2 separate regions of the Homo sapiens genome follow, and region 2 is linked to region 1. Evidence: fine-mapped expression QTL. A gene starts in region 1. The other region holds a variant in brackets. All regions are shown on one strand. Distances are from middle to middle.

Region 1 (4,397 bases):
TCCTTCCCTCAAAAGGGGGAAATATATTTAAATTTAAAACAAGGGGAACAAACAAAACAACTGCAGAATGAAAATAGAACTACTGAGATCATAAAAATACGAATCCAACAGTTTTTCTAAACTGAGAGATTAATATTTTAAAAATGAGATTCTCAAACATTAAGACATGCCAGGCCAAGCACAGTGGCTCACGCCTGTAATCCCAGCACTTTGGGATGCTGAGGTGGGAAGAACACTTGAGTCTAGGAGTTTGAGACCAGCCTGGGCAACATGGCAAAACCCCATCTCTACCCAAAAAATGCAAAAATTAGCCAGGCACGGTGGTATGCACCTGTAGTCCCAGCTATTAGGGAGGCTGAAGTTGGGGGATCACTTGAGACCAGGAGAGAGAGGTTGCAATGAGCTGTGATCATGCCACTGCACTCCAGCCTGGGCAACAGAGTGAAACTCTGTCTCGGAAAAATAAAAAAAGACATACTGGGTTTTCTGAGACTCCAGCTAGATACATATTATGGCCCATTGTTGTGCACATCTTAAAATAATAGACAGATTAGAACTCAAGTGGTCCACCCAGAACTACAGAGTTAACATGTAGGATCGTCTAAGTTCTCTGTCTACCTCTATATATTTTTTCTGCCTACTTTGAAACTACTGACTTTTCTACTTGTGTTGAGATAAAGCTCACTGTTTATAGTATTACTAACTTAAGAAGACTTAGAAATTTTGTTTTTCTTATACGATTCAGCCAGTTCAAGCTAAAATGTTAACATTAAAAACCTAACTCTAAACTCATTTGAAACTGAATAAAAGGATAAAAGATTTTTAAAATAAAACTGCCATCGAACTACCTTACCCAAAAATTTTGGCTCACAGCCTTCATTAGATTACCTATTGGGACAAATAAAATTTAGCCATGTGAACTAACAGGTCCCAATTTTTTCCAAAAATAATTTAGATCCAACTATCTTTTATAAACTGGTGAGTTTGTATTACTATCTCATGACTAAAATTCTAAAATGAAAACTATAAGGGCCAGATGAGGTGACTCATGCCAGCAGTCCCAGCACTTTGGGAGGCCAAGGTAGGAGGATCATTTGCGCCCAGGAGCTCAAGACCAGCCCTGGCAACATAGTGAGACTCTGACTCTACAAAAAAAAAACTTTTTTAAGTTAGCTGGGCATGGCGGCACGCACCTGTAGTCCCAGGTACTCAGGAGGCTGAGGTGGGAGAATCACTTGAGCCTGGGAGGTCCAGGCTGCAGTGAGCCATGGTCATACCACTGCTCTCTACCCTGGGCAACAGAGTGAGGCCCTGTTTCAAAAGACAAATCAAAAAATAAAGGTATAAGATCTCTATTTGTGCATATATATGTGTGTTTAGATGTGTTTACATATATACATGTAATATGTTATATGTTGTATCTACATGATACCCAATTGACTTATAGATAAATGAGCACTCATAAATTAGTAAGCCCAAAGGTTTTCCAAGTTCACATGACTTAAGTAATTCTTTAATAAATAAACTGGCTTTAAAATTATTAGTAAAATAAATATTAAAATGTCTTCAAAATTGTCAACATACATATTTGCCTAGATTTATGGTCAGATTTATACTTGTCTTATTAAATATTTTACAGGGTCAGGATTTGGCACAAAGGTAAAAAACTATGAACCCAGCCAAAACCAAAATAATCTTTGTGTGATTTTTTTTATAAGTAAGACTAATTTAATATTGTTGGTTTAAGAAATACAGCTAAACCTTCTGAGTTATCAACAAAATACCCATGTATTTAACTTTAAATTTCTTGCTTAGGTAAATATCTGACATTCACAGGCTATAAAAATGGTTAATAGAAAAAAACTTAAAAAACTGAGCACAGGCCAGGCATGGTGGCTCATGTGTGTAATCCTAGCACTTTGGGACCCTAAGGTGGGAGAATCACTTGAGCTCAGGAGTTTGAGACCAGCCTGGGCAACATAATGAGATCTCATCTCCATTTAAAAAATATATATATATTAAATTTTTAAAAAAGCTGGGCACAGTGGTTCATGACTGTTATCCTAATGCTTTAGGAGGCCAAGGCAGGTGGATCATTTGAGATCAGGAGTTCAAGACAAGCCTAAGCAACATAGTGAGACACTGTCTCTACAACACAGTGAGATACTGTCTCTACAAAAATTTTGAAAATTAGTCTGGCATGGTGGCACTTACCTGTAGTCCTGGCCACTCAGGAAGCTGAGAAGGGAGGATTGCTTGTGCCCAGGAGTTGAGGTTACGATGAGCTGATCATGCCACTGCATGATAATAATTTATTACATGGTAAATTATTTTCCTAAAGCAAAATGACAGGTTAATTATAAAAGAGAAAGGGTAGGGCAAAACAAAAGTTCAAACATGTCATAAATAGTCTACAGAAATCATAATAGGCCTGGCGTGGTGACTCATGCCTGTAATCCCAGCACTTTGGGAGGCTGAAGTGGGCGGATCACAAGGTCAGGAGTTCGAGACCAGCACAGCCAAAATGGTGAAACCTCATCTCTACTAAAAATACAAAAAGTAGCCAGGTATGGTGGCGCATGCCTGTAGTCCCAGCTACTCGGGAGGCTGAGGCGGGAGAATCACTTGAACCTGGAATGCGGAGTTTGCAGTGAGCCAAGATAGTGACACTGTACTCCAGCCTGGGCAACAGACTCCATCTCAAAAAAAAAAAAAAAAAAAAAAGAAATTATAATAAAGTTCTTTAAAATTTTTTTAAATGTATATGTGATTAAGTTGGCTATAATCAAAAAAAAGTTATAAGTGTTTCTAAAGATTGAGATTTTGGTCCTCTATGTTAAAATAACATTGTCTTAAAGTATAAATTTGCTCTTAGTGAATTACAAGAGCTTTTGATTTTAAATTCTACAATCTATTTCTTTTCTAAAACTTCTCAAATTTATATCTCAAAAAATTCTACTTGTGCTATACCTCGCTGCACATGATTCCCAAGTCATGAATCGTTGTTGTTCGTTCTTTATACCCTTAAAAAGATACATGTTTTTCTTGGTTGAAATGATAATCCTCTCCTTCAACCTTTTTGTCAACTTCTGTAATCTTTGACTTTTTTTTTTTTTTTTTTTTTTGAGATGAAATTTTGCTCTTGTCACCCAGGCTGGAGTGCAGTGGCAAGATCTCCGCTTACTGCAACCTCCGCCTCCCAGGTTCAAGTGATTCTCCTGCCTCAGCCTCCGAGTAGCTGGGATTAGAGGCATTCGCCGCCGTGCCCAGCTAATTTTTGTATTTTTAGTAGAGACAGAGTTTCATCATTCTAGCCAGCCTGGTCTTAAACTCCTGACCTCAGCTGATCCACCCGCCTCGGCCTCCCGAAGTGCTGGGATTGCAGGCATGAGTCACCATGCCCAGCCAACTTCTGTAATTTTTTTTTTTTTTTTTGAGATGGAGTCTTGCTGTGTCACCCAGGCTGGAGTGCAGTGCCGCGATCTAGGCTCACTGCAAGCTCCGCCTCCCAGGTTCACGCCATTCTCCTGCCTCAGCCTCCCGAGTAGCTGGGACTACAGGCGCCCGCCACCACGCCCGGCTAATTTTTTGTATTTTTAGTAGAGACGGGGTTTCATCGTGTTAGCCAGGATGGTCTCGATCTCCTGACCTCGTGATCTGCCCACCTCGGCCTCCCAAAGTGCTGGGATTACAGGCGTGAGCTACTGTGCCCGGCCTTCTGTAATCTTTTTCTCTGGTTCTAACTCTGGTGTGGCCTGATGCTAAAATGTTTATCTTAAAGCTCTGGAACAAAACCATTTTCCTCCAATATAACTTGATTCTGTAGTCTTGGCTTTTCTCGATATAGCTAAATTATTTCCTATAACCAGGGCACTTTTGATGCTGTTACTGAGACATATTTATTGTCCTGCTTAAGATACAAGTTTCCTTGTTTACTTTCCTCAAAAATATAGTGTACACTCATAACTCTGGACACACTCTTCCTGTATTTTAATTAAATCCAAGTATCCTTTTTTTTTTTCTCGCTCTGTCTCCAGGCTGCAGTACAGTGGCATCATCTCAGCTCACTGCAACCTCCGCCTCCCAGGTTCAAGCGATTCTCCTGCCTCCATCTCCCAAGGAGCTGGGACTACAGGTGCGCACCACCACGCCCAGCTGATTTTTGTATTTTTAGTAGAGACGGGGTTTCACCATGTTGGCCAGGATGGTCTCGATGTCTTGACCTCATGATCCGCCCACCTCGGCCTCCCAAAGTGCTGGAAGTACAGGCGTGAGCCACCGCGCCCAGCCTAAATCCAAGTATTCTTTTCATTGAGTTTGTCTTCCAGGTTATCTAAATAGAGTTCCAATAAAGAAAAACAATCATATTACAAAAGGTTTTTCTTTACTTTTTAGTA
Region 2 (4,397 bases), 21 kb before region 1:
CTTCTTGCTGTCAGTTTAATCCCAGGCTGGGAACCTGGTTCCCAGGTTTTACATTCTGATATTTAATGTCACTTAGTATCTCCTTTTAGAATAACTGACTTGGCTATACACAGACATCGTTTTCCTTATTTTATTTAATAGAGAGGGAATAGGAAAGAAGCAGTTTATTGGAGGCCACAGTGTAAGTTGGTGTCACAGTTGGACTTGAATCCCAGGTTCCTTGAATTTCTAGTCAGAGCCCCCAAGCCTAGGAGGAAACACAAAGCAATATGGACAGAGGCCCCAGTGGGAAGAAGGGTGGGAGGCATGGCCCTTTGGAGACTAAAGGGGAAACACTTACCTCGGCTAGCGAGCTCTCTGGCCGTCTCCTTGCCAATGCCCGTGTTGGCGCCAGTGATCACCACTACCTTGCCAGGAAGCTGCACATTTGTTCTACACACTCCACCAGCAAAGAACTTCCTATCGGCAAGGGAAACAAGAGCATCACGTACCATCCTTCACGAGCTCACACTAAGATACGTTAAAAAAAAAAAAAAAAACTCTATCCAGCCTCAAAGAAGGGTATCTTTAAGTTGCAGTCAGGAGACTCATAAAAGCTAACCTTCATAGGACAACATTTTTCCATGGGGCAAGGTAGTCGCCTGTTTATCGGTGCAGGTGGGAAGATCACTTGCCCAGAAGCCACAAATAATCATATTAGCAAACAGAGTAAATGCTGGAGTCAGGGCCAATGGAGACTTTCCTTGTTAGATAATAAATACATCTAGCTCTTATCTCTAGAGGTTCCAGAGGAAAGCTTTCCCCTCTAACCTACATTCAAAACATATGCATGATAAACATTAGCGGAGTCAATATTCAGTAACCATCATCATGAGTAACTGATGAACAGCACTCTGTGGGGGGTGGCACACACAGGTACTGCTCTTAGCACTCTGGGGGATGGCATACACAGGTACTGATCTTAGGCTGCCTCTCCAGTTTTAGGGAGTGGGTCATTTCCGAGGCTTTCAGCCATTGTATTAGAGATTTCATTCTGGCCGATGGCAAACAGAGAGAAAACCTCCTTTGTTCAGACCTCTGTGCAGAGAGCACTCTTTTACATGAAGTTGACTTCACAGGTCCTAAAACAGAATACGGAGGGGCAGAACTAACATTTCCTGCACATCATCTGACTGCCAATTACTAGTCTAGGCACTTTCCATATGTAATTTATTTTAATCCTCTCAACTTCTCCAGTATTATTTCCACATTACAGTAGAGAAAACTGAGGCTCAGGGAGGTTCATGTCACATAGTGGTGGCAGAAGTGGGACTTGAACCCAGATCTCTATGGAGAACCTAGAATAACACTGTCCTTGGTAGGTCCATTTAACCTCCTTTATCATAAGAAATTTTTTAGGCTGAGCCCAGTGGCTCATGCCTGTAATCCCAACATCTTGGGAGGCCAACGTGGGATGGTCGCTTAAGCCCAGGAGTTTGAGACCAGCCTGGGCAACATAGTGAGACCCCCATCTCCACAAAAAATTTAAAAAGTAGCTGGGTGTAGTGGCACCTGCCTATATTCCCAACTACTTGGGAGGCTGAGGCAGGAGGGTTGCTTGAGCCCAAGAGTTCAAGGCTGCAGTGACCTATGACTACACCAATGCACTCCACCCTGGGGTGACAGAGCAAAAATTAAAAAAGAGAAATTTAAAAATTCTCCACTCAGAACACAC[T/A]TTTATTTGACACCTCTAGAAATCCCACAGCAAAAAAGCCATCCCAAAACATTAATTGAGGGTAGTCTCAAAGGCAGAAGAGTTTGTTTCTTTCCCAAACTACCTGGTACTTAACAGCATGACAAGCCAGCAGGGCCACCCTGAATAGGGACAGAGTCTCCGAGTTCTTCAGAGACACCCAAAGGAATAAAATGAAAACGCAAGGACTCCCACCTAAGGTGTTTGTTGAGCTACTTGACAGAGTCATCCATGCAGCCTTCCGCTGGCAGTAGAACTCTCCCCAGAGCTCAGGTGGGGCCAGAACTCAGCCCCACCTCTGCCCGGCCGCAGATGCTTCCTTCTGGTTTTCCACCATGGTATCCACAACACCCCCTTCCTTCCTGCTTTTCCTGCCCTGACTTTCTCCTCTGTCAGCCTCCTTCCCTTTCTCTTCTTTCAGCAGCTGAGAACCGGCTTCCAGTGCAGGTCTTTGTAAACGATTGTTTGAGTTGCTGAATTAAGACAAACCTGATGGATGGAGCTACCATATACAGGAACGAGAAGAAGGAGGTGAGCAGTCCCAAGGTGACCAGCATCGTTCCAACTTCTGTAGCTGCTGTTGCTTTTGCTGCTGCTCCAGCTTCAACCCCAGCTCTGGCTCAGGTTCCTGGTCTGGCTCCAGCTCTTGGCTGCTTCTGCTGCTTCTCTGCTCCTCTCCGTCCTGGGTGCTGAGCAGCAGCCTGACTCTGAGCAGAGCCCAGAATCCTATTTAAATCCAAGAGCTGTCAGAGCACAGCCTGCTGGGAGATGTAGTCCTGGTGGGGAGGGGATGGAGTCAAGGTTTGAAGCTTACTTAGGTTTACTGGCAAAGAGAATGTGGGGAAACTAAAGCAAGTACCCCCTAAACCCCCCATCCTCAATTGTTTCTCTTCTCTAGGAAATGTGTTCTCCCAACCACTGCCACCTCTACTGCAAGATGGAATATATAGAATATTTCTAACTTTAGCCACAAACCCCATGATGCTTAAAATATGAGTGGATTAAAATAGGATGGGAAGGAAACTCCCAGAAGAATGGAGAGAGACGTCAGAAGAGCAGTTAACCTTAGGGAGGAGGGGGCAGTGACTGGGGAGGGAGATGACTGGAACTCCTGGAGGGCTGAGAGTGCTCTGCTCTTTCATCTGGGTGCTAGTACATGGGTGTGCTCACTTTATGAAAATCTGCTGAGTCGTATGCTTTCGACTTGTGCACTTTTCTGCATTTTATATTTTACTTCAATGAAGTTAACACACGCACATGCATATTACAAGGAAAGGTATGGTGTTTAAGTGCATGGACTCTAGCGCTGAATCTATTTAAAAGCTCCACGGCCCTGGGCAAGTTACTAAACCTCTCTGTTAACTCAGTTTTCTCACTTGTACAATGGGTATGATTATATATATAATATATGGTTTTATATATATATGTGTTATACATATATATATATATATATATATATATCCCCACTTGTTCTAAGTGTTCAATTATTACATTGGTGGAAAACGAAACTGGCATATGCTAAACAGTATATAAGAGTCAGCTGTTATGGTTAGCTGTTCTGATTCGTATCTCCCTTGCTATCTCACTTGCTTTACTCAAGGCCATGGTGTAGAAAAGGGAGAGATGATGAACGTGGGTGATGTTTCAGTTGAATGCTATTGAAGATGAGGAGAAATACAAGAAAATGCTGGTAAAGAGCCCAAGGTAGGGGGATCCCTTGAGGCCAGAAGTTCAAGACTGAGCTTAGGCAACTTAGTGAGACCCTGTCTCTACAAAAAATTATCTGGGTGTGGTGGTGCGTGCCTGTAATCCTAGCTACTCGGGAGGCTGAGTAGGGAGGATCACTTGAGCTCAGAGGTCAAGGTTGAAGTGAGCTAGGATCGTGCCTCTGGATGTGTGTGAGATGGGAGAAGGGTAAGTGGGATTCATTGCCCTTCCTCGCTCTGTGTTCCTCTCTTGGACAGAAGAATAGACAAGGAGCTGGGACAGGACCCCAGGAATAATTTCCCAGTTCTGTCCCTTCCTGTGAAGCCAGAGGAGCCTCCAGGAACACCCATGCATGAAAGACTTCTGTGGCAGGCAGGTGTTCATGTCCTCATTCATCAGTTCATCCTCAACACACATTTACTGAGTGTTTCTCTGCACCAGGAATTGTGCAACATACTAGGAAGACACAGTTTCTGCCCCTGGGGAAACCCATGGACCTGACCAACAGAACAAGGAGTGATCAGATCATTCCCAGCAGACACTTCTTGACTCAAATCTAAGATCCTTGCATTTAAGAAGATGGTACTCACCTTAGCTTGAGCTTGTCCAGGAAGCAGAGAGTCCTTAAGAACAGCATACAGTCCTCTGGAGAGAAGATATTAGAAGGACCATAAGGCATCTAGAATTATGAAAATACACAAACACTTTGCTAAAATAAAATGTTAAATATTATAATCCAAAGGCCACCATCATATCATTGATAAGTTGTACCAAAATGCTAAACCATACTACTAAGTACAGGTAGGTGAATAGGCAGACAAATCAATAGAACAGAATGGAAAGGCAAGAAATAGACCCAAATACACATGGGCATTTAGATATGATGAAAATGCCATTTCAAATCAGTGGAAGGGACAGATGATTTAATTAACAAAGTATTGTGGCACCTAGGTATCCA

Direction of the effects. Alleles are on the strand shown, and positions count from the first base shown. SD is a standard deviation of normalised expression in the study named.
As copies of T replace A in region 2, the expression in prefrontal cortex of the gene that starts at base 2,264 in region 1 goes down (small effect, 0.28 SD a copy in ROSMAP).

The links. PIP is the estimated chance that this variant, and not a neighbour inherited with it, causes the effect. A credible set is the group of variants that fine-mapping cannot tell apart.
Region 2: its variant is the best candidate, but not a certain one, in a credible set for the expression of RDH12 in prefrontal cortex (ROSMAP, PIP 0.70).

Annotation. Positions count from the first base shown.
Region 1 is chr14:67,699,753-67,704,149 of GRCh38, reverse strand. RDH12 (retinol dehydrogenase 12) reads right to left here and starts at 2,264. Exons shown (of 9, transcript NM_152443.3): 1 at 2,215-2,264. It also overlaps a transcript of GPHN not described here.
Region 2 is chr14:67,720,535-67,724,931 of GRCh38, reverse strand. It overlaps RDH12 (retinol dehydrogenase 12), which reads right to left. Exons shown (of 9, transcript NM_152443.3): 2 at 4,030-4,084; 3 at 2,222-2,508; 4 at 341-459. The coding sequence starts at 2,289. It also overlaps a transcript of GPHN not described here. Among named protein-coding and RNA genes, the nearest start is that of RDH12, 21 kb to the right of the region's middle. The variant T/A (reference allele first, on the strand shown) is at 1,715.